2 linked regions of the Homo sapiens genome follow. The protein of the gene in region 2 interacts with the protein of the main gene of each other region in a pairwise test. Each region holds a gene or a part of one and is shown on either strand. Other genes may lie near its edges. The genes, in order: SMO and C18orf32.

The links.
Region 1: the proteins of C18orf32 (region 2) and SMO interact in a two-hybrid assay, tested with the Homo sapiens proteins (one large-scale study listed by BioGRID and IntAct).

Annotation. Positions count from the first base shown.
Region 1 is NC_000007.14:129,187,081-129,190,992, reverse strand, and holds the start of SMO (protein smoothened precursor), read right to left. Parts: upstream 2,361-3,912; 5' UTR 1,842-2,360; coding exon 1,511-1,841; intron 1-1,510. UniProt on the Homo sapiens protein: G protein-coupled receptor which associates with the patched protein (PTCH) to transduce hedgehog protein signaling. Binding of sonic hedgehog (SHH) to its receptor patched prevents inhibition of smoothened (SMO) by patched.
Region 2 is NC_000018.10:49,480,641-49,484,452, forward strand, and holds part of C18orf32 (UPF0729 protein C18orf32), read right to left. Parts: intron 3,132-3,812; coding exon of another isoform or gene 3,109-3,131; coding exon 2,944-3,108; intron 1,771-2,943; coding exon 1,705-1,770; 3' UTR 1-1,704. Other genes in the region: RPL17-C18orf32 protein, read right to left, coding at 2,952-3,131. UniProt on the Homo sapiens protein: May activate the NF-kappa-B signaling pathway.

The sequences.
Region 1 (3,912 bases), on a different chromosome or scaffold from region 2:
TCTTTTTATTATTATTATTATTATTTCAGTCTTTTGCATGAATGTAACTTTAAAATTACAATTATTTTATCTTCTATGTATACCCATTCTTATATATGAGTATACATGTAACACATGTATGCAAACATCGTAAAAGAAGTGTATATGCAAAACCACATCCACCTTACACTATGGTAATCTGCAGAGTTTTCAAAGCCACTGTTGTTTACACATGATTTCTGTCTAATGTGCTGTGCTGACTTTAGAACCTGATCCCCAAAAAGGATGCAGCTCTTCCTCATGGGTACCATGGATACCATCCTCCAAGTTCCTCCTCCAGCATCTGCACCAAGCCAGGAACCTTATGGCCTTGTCCAACATCTGACAAAGGCCGAGAACTTGTCAATGACAGGCGGCCTACATACACTCCCTACATTAGGGTCCTCACCAGCCCCCTGGGCAGAGCTAAGAGATGGGGTACCCCAGCCCTGTCAAAAGAGGGAGGCTCCCAGTTCTGCTCCTGGCTCCTGGTTTTCTTTTCTTTTTCCCAGGACAGTTTTAGAATCATACTGGCTAGAAGCGAGGGCTGATAAGGCCAGCTCCCTTCCTCAGCACCCTCCAAGCCTCATCTAGAAAAGTGACAGGTGGGGGAGAGTATACTCCACACTGCTAAGGAAGGACATTTGGGTTCAGTGTGCAGTTTTTCAGACTCTGCCACTCCAGTGAGGGGGCTTTGGGACTTCAAACCACCATGGAAGTGTCCACAGGCTCTCAACACTCCAGACTTAAGCGTCCTTCCACAGCCCTGACCAGCCTCGGTAACCAAATTTCCAAAGAAAACACAAATAACTGTTAGAAAGGTCTTATTCCTTCATAACCTCCTGCATGCGTCAGAGGGCCGGTTTTTCAGATGCACAAACTGAATGAAATCTCCCGTGAAAGCCAGACAAGATCACAGTTCTCTAGGCTTCATTCCTGTCTCCCAAATCAAGATTTCCAGAACTTTCTGGTTACCTTTTAATAATTCATCACTAGGGAGGTTTCTTTTCCTTCAAAACTTCACTCGATCATGTCCCCCTACCCTTCCCTCCAAATGTCTAAACCTCTTCCTCCGTCATCCCTCCCCTTTTCCTCTCCAACTCCAATTTCCCCAGGGTCTTCAACACCTCCTTGAATCCCCCGGCACCCTGCTTCCAGAATAGGTGGAGCATCTCCTCTTCTTACAAAATGTCTTTTCCCGTGGCTTAGAGCCACCTCCTCACGGGCCCCTCATCCCCGCCATCCTTTGCTCACCCACCAGCTCAGGCCCTTTGTGACCCGCTTCGTCAACTTCCTTGCCCTCCTTTTCCCATGACCGAGGGTCCCATCCTGCACGTAACCTGCCCCCAAAGTTTCGGGATCTGTCCCTCCAACTCTCCCGGGTGCTGTCCCCGCCCTCTCCAAAACTCAGGCCTGAGCCTGTTCTTTCCAAGGGTGCCCCCATCTTACCGCGGCACCTCCCGCCCCCCAGACCCGGCTCCGCCGCACTTACCCGACCAGAGCACGAGCTTGCCGTGCGCTTCCTCCTGGGAGTCCGAGTCTCCGGCCAGCAGTGTGGAGGTGGCCCCGTAGGGCAGCACCGAGCCCAGGCACACGTTGTAGCGCAGCGGCTCGCAGGGGGCAGCCCGGCCGCAGTGGCTCAGCGGCGGCGGAGGGCCAGTCACCGCCGCGCTCCTCCTCGCGCTCCCGCCCGCGCTCCGAGGCCCAGGCCCGGTCGCGTTCCCGCTCGAGGCCGCCCCCCGGCCCGGGTCCCCCAGCAGCAGCAGCAGCAGCAGCCCCAGGAGCGGGAGCTCCGGCCCCCGCGCTGGGCGGGCAGCGGCCATGGCCAACCCCGCCAACTCAGCAAAAGCCCCGGCGCCCCCGCCTGCTCCTCGGAGCCCCCCGGCCACACGCACGACCTCGGCGGCCGCGGAGGCGGCTCAGGCGACCTGTGCGCCCAGAGAATCCGGGCCCGGGCCCCCCCGGACGCTCCGCGCGCCCCGGCCCCTCGGCGCCCAACTTCGCAAACTTTGGAACCCGGGGCCCATGTTGGGCTGCGGAGGCCCGGAACGGGATGCACGACTCCCCAAGCCCTAGCCTCGCAATCCAAGTTGTCTTCAGCCCTAGGAGACCCCTGGGCCCCCAATCCCCAGCCCCATTCCCTCTCCCACCATTAAAGCCACCTCCCCGCCCCGCGAGGGAGGCCAGACGCGGGCCGGGGGTGCGAGTGCAGCTCCGGCTCCGCCCCCGCGCCAGCCCGCGGCCCAGCAGCCACCTTCGCCCCAGCGCGCCGCAGCCCCCCGAACTCTCCCCGCCGGCGACCCGGCTCCTTTGTTGCTCTAGCTCGCTGGGCTCTCTGGAATGCACGGGCCTCGCGGAGCCAAGCCCGGCCCCCCTGCGCCGAGGCTGGGGGAGGGACTGGACGAAGGAGCGGAGAGGTGGGGAGGGGAGGCGAGAGAGGAAGAGCGCGAGCGTCAGCGTCCCTGGCGCCTGGAGGGGCCCGGGCTAGGGGGATCTGGTGACCCCGCCTGCCGCCGCCCCGCGCCCGGGGGAAAGAGATGAGTGGAAATCGTGGGCCGGACCTGCAAGGAGAGACTCGGCGGGCACCTTGCTTGGTCTGAGGTCGTCTGCAGGAAGCGGACTTTTCTCCTGGCTCAGGATGGGAAAGACAGGGGATGCCTGAAGTCAACGGGGACTTCTGTTCCATCTCTGCCCCGTTCTCCAGGCCCGCCAGTTTTTCCTGCTTTGGTTAGATTTTCCAACGTATCCCGGGGCCCCATGGAGAAGAACCTGGGTTTGGGGTTTGCGCTTCTCCAAATCCTTCCAGCTCGGGACCTTTGAGAGAGACGACCTCAGAGTCACTCACGGCAGCTGCTCTGGCTGCTGTTACCTGCGGGAACAGGTGTCTGGGAAATAAACTTGCCAACATCAAGCCTTTACTGCTACAAATATGTGAAGTCTGAACTGTGGTTCCCAGGGACTGGCCTTGGTTATGTGAGAAGGAAACCAGTCCTTCTTTGATGGCCCTGCTGCTCATCTGCTCTGGGAGGTTTCTGCTGCTCCTCTTCCCCACTCTGCTCATTTTGCCTTTCCTCACTCCTTTGAGCATCACACTTTTGGTCACCACACTTAATTTCCCACTTCAGCAGTTTACACCTGCACAACCAAGTATAACCCAGCATAACCACAAGGCTCCAAACAGGAGAGTAGACTTGCACTGAGCAACTTTTTCCTTGTTGCTGATCGGGCTGCACACCAGGGTGGGTTTTCCTTTCTTACCCCTGGAAGACTTGCTCATGGCCTAGCGGTAGTGGACTAGTTCTGTTACTTTGGACAGTTTAAGTGCATATTAGTTATTGCACTTCAACTATATCAATTGGAGAGAGAGAGAGAATTTAATTCAATTTAGCAAGTCTTTCTGAAATTCCAGCATGTACATAGCACAGAGACATCCTGGAGGAACCTGTAGACTTCCATTTTCCTGTGGATACATGGCTTGCTCTCAGGAAACATAGCATGACAGAACAGCAACGTTCCCTCCTTCAGGTCAGGGACCTTATCTCATTCTCTTAGTGTTCACAAAACATCTAGTTCACTTGAGCATACATAGTAATCACTTGATAAATAAGCTGCCAAAATGAGATGTACCGTGAGTATGCTATAGGAATAGGGGACAGAGGTCAGTGTGGATAGAAGTGGAGGAGGTGGGTTTTGAATCCAGGACTAAAGTGTGAGTAGGAGGAGTTAGAATAAGGACATAGATAAGTAGGGAAACTGATTGGTAAGAAGCCTCAAATAACACACAGAATTAAGGGTCAATTCTCTTGATAGTAAGGAAATCTCAAAGTTTTGACTAGGGGAATGATATTAATCTTTACTGGTTAATATTAGGTGATATGGTTTGGATCTGCATCC
Region 2 (3,812 bases):
TGCACCTGTAGTCCCAGCTACTTGAGAGGCTAAGGTGAGAGGATCACTTCAGGACTGCAGGTCGAGGCCATAGAGAGCCGTGATCATGCTGCTGCACTCCAGCTTGAGTGACAGAGTGAGACCCTGTCTCAAAAACATAAATAAATAAAAATGATGTGCATATTTAAGAACAAATTAATTTTCAAAAAGTTGCTAGAAGGTTACACACAAAATCAACTGGGGCGGACTCTGGATGCACTGCCTATGAATTAGCCTTGCTCCACAAGGAGCAGCACTGTTCAGGAAAAGACTACTGTCTAACAAAAACAAACCATACAACAACAACAACAAAAAAACAATTGGTTACCTCTGTGGAGCTGGAATAAGGGAATGAGAGTTGAGAAAAAACATTCGCTTTTCATTTAGGATCCTCTTGCATTGTTGTACTGTAAATATCTGTTATTTTTATAATAGTATTTATACCTTAAAAAAGTTTATTTGCTAATGAGAATTTATCTTATCCCTCAGGTGGCTTTGGACAGAAAAGCTGAGACCTGCTGATTTACATGATTTATATCAAATAAAGCCCAAGGTAAATCAGTGACTTGACCAGCCACAGAACTTAATAGAGCCTGAGTTAGGACCCAGACTTCATTAGGGACCCAAGGGCAGGAGTTCCTTTTAATCTTTCCCAGCTTCAGAGTGAATACAAAAAATATATAAGGATGCATCTCATCATCTTTGAATATTTATAGGTCCCTACACTGAATTTTCAAAGCCCAAGATAAAAATCACATAGCGGCCCAGGTCCAGACCCAGGCCCAGCCAGCCATATGAGTGAGCCCAGAACAGCAAAGAACTGCCCAGTCGAGTCACTGCTGCTGAAAACCACTAAATTTTGGAGTGTCTTGTTACGCAACAATAGTAATTGTTGTCCCACCACTACACAGATGCCATCACAACATCCAAATTCTGCCTTCTGACGTGGTGAAAAATTTCCCTTTTGAATATTTCAATAGACTTTAAAAGAAAATGAACTACCAGTTAAACTGAATGTTTAATACATTTGTAGGAACAGAAGAAATGCAGTAAGGATTAAAATTTTATAATTAGACATTAATGTAACAGATGTTTCATTTTTCAAAGAAGTTTCCCCCTTTTCCCTATCTTTTTTTAATCTTCCTTAGAGCAATAAATAGTAATTACTATATTTGTGGACAAGCTGCTCCACTGTGTTGGACAGTAATTATTAAATCTTTATGTTTCACATCATTATTACCTCCCAAAATTCTACCTTCATTTCCCTGCACAGTTTCACTGGACTGTTTCACAACAAAATTGTACTCCACTCAAATTAGAAGAGCCCAAAGAAATTAGAGCAAACAGCAAATTCATATGAATTAGAGAACCAAAGATTTTAAAGTGCTGATTTAGTAACATAATGTCTACTGGCACAAACCTTCTATTTAATCATATTATTCAAACAGCAATAACAGAAATGAAAGCTACATTAACGAAAAAGGAACTTAGGAATGAGGTCATTAAATATAACTAACTACATTTTAAATACGGATATCATATATTTCCTGATTAGTATCAGGTAAATATCTAGACTCCTATCCTGAATTCCGGTCTCAGATAAAAAGGTCAGAGACAATTACAAGGAAGATGCTTCATATTATCAGGTCCATTTTTTAAATGATGGGGTCCTTTAGGAAAATTTCTTTAGTCTTTCTTTTTATCACAGATTTCTGTTGGTCCTTTTGTTGGTAATCCATTCATGTCTGCACCCTAAAATGAAAAAACATTTTAGAAATTATCATAACAAGCCGGGTGCGGTGGCTTATGCCTGTAATCCCAGCACTTTGGGAGGCTGAGGCAGGCAGATCACGAGGTCAGAAGATCGAGACCATCCTGGCTGACATGGTGAAACCCCGTCCCTACTAAAAATACAAAAATTAGCTGGGTATGGTAGCATGTGCCTATAATCCCAGCTACTCAGGAGGCTGAGGCAGGAGAATCGTTTGAACCTGGGAGACGGAAGTTGTGGTGAGCCAAGATTATGCCACTGCACTCTAGCCTGGTGACAAAGCGAGACTTCATCACAAAAACAAAAACAAAAAAAAAAAAAGAAAGAAATTATTACAACAAAAAGATATTAAGAGACATTCTGTCTCTCTCTTTTTTTTTTTTTTTGAGATGGAGTTTCATTCTTGTCACCCAGGCTGGAGTGCAATGATGTGATCTCGGCTCACTGAAACCTCTGCCACCCAGGTTCAAGCAATTCTCCCACCTCAGCCTCCTGAGTAGCTGAGATTACAGGTGCCCACCACCGCGCCTCACTAATTTTGGTATTTTTAGTAGAAACAGGATTTCACCATGTTGGTCAGGCTGGTCTCAAACTCCTGACCTCAGGTGATCAACCCATCTTGACCTCCCCAAGTGCTGGGATTACAGGCGTGAGCTACCGCGCCCAGCTCAAGAAACATTCTCTTTAAAAACAGACAAGCTCCAGAGTGAAAACATTTTGCTTCCAGAAACGGGCCGGATGGCTAAATTAGTGCAGCTGAGTACAAAGCTGAATCTAAAAAAGCACCAATTCTAAAGACAACAGAGTTGTCCACTCATTTTTAAAAAAATTGTTTTTTTTTTAAATCTCTATGATCCTTCTAATTAAATCTCTTATCAAAGTCATCAATCAGTGAAACTGGTTTGTATCAGCATAATCTCTCCTCATCCATTAGCTATTTACCATTGCACTTACCAGTCAGAAAATATGGTTATCATTTTGGCCAAAGGACAAATGCATTAATCAGAGGCCTACTTTAAAACTTTAATTTAAGCCAAATGTTACACAAACTATTGAAGCTTCTGGTTCTAAAACTTGTCCTTCCAAAATCTAGTGTTTCACCCAAGTACCACCCCCTTTCACTGCTCTTATTCAAGGCATGTGAATGTTCTTACCTTAAAGTTTACTTTGCCTTTGTTTGTATCATTGGATTCTTGTATTGCTTTCTTAGGCCATATACGACTAACGAAGGGGGAAACCAGAGGGTATATATATGGCTCCAGGAATTTTTTGTAGATCCAGAGCAGAACTGGAATGACGATACAAGGAATGCACACCATTTTCCCAAGCTTGAGCTCCTCAACTGTTGATATATGTGAAGAAAAAAATTAGTTCATCACAGATTAGTAACTGAAAGAATTTACCAAGATTAAGATATCTGAAAGGGGATAGATGTGGTGGCTCACGCCTGTAATCCCAGCACTTTGGGAGGCAAGAGGATAGCTTGAGCCCAGGAGTTTGAAACCAACTTGCACAACAAAGTGAGACCTTGTCTCTACAAGATCAAAAAATTAGCTGGGCATGGTGGCATACTCCTGTGGTCCCAGCTACATAAGTGGCTGGGACAAGAGGATCACTAGAGCCCAGGAGGTTGAGGCTGCAGTGAGCCGTGTTCATGCCACTGCTCTCCAGCCTGGATGACACAGAGACACTTTGTCTCAAAAAAAGAAAAAAAAAAAATATATATATATATATATATACACACACACACACACACACACACACACACACACGAAAGGACTATTTCTACAGTGTAGGAAAAACTTAAAACATACTATTATATTTGCTAAAAAAAAAAGACTTTATTAAATAAAAAGCTGCTATCTACAAGGTAAAGAAATAGGCCAGGTGCAGTGGCTCATGGCTGTAATCCCAGCACTTTGGGAGGCCAAGGCGGGTGGATCATGAGGTGAGGAGTTCGAGACCAGCCTGGCCAACATGGTGAAACCCTGTCTCTACTAAAAATACAAAAATCAGCGGGGTG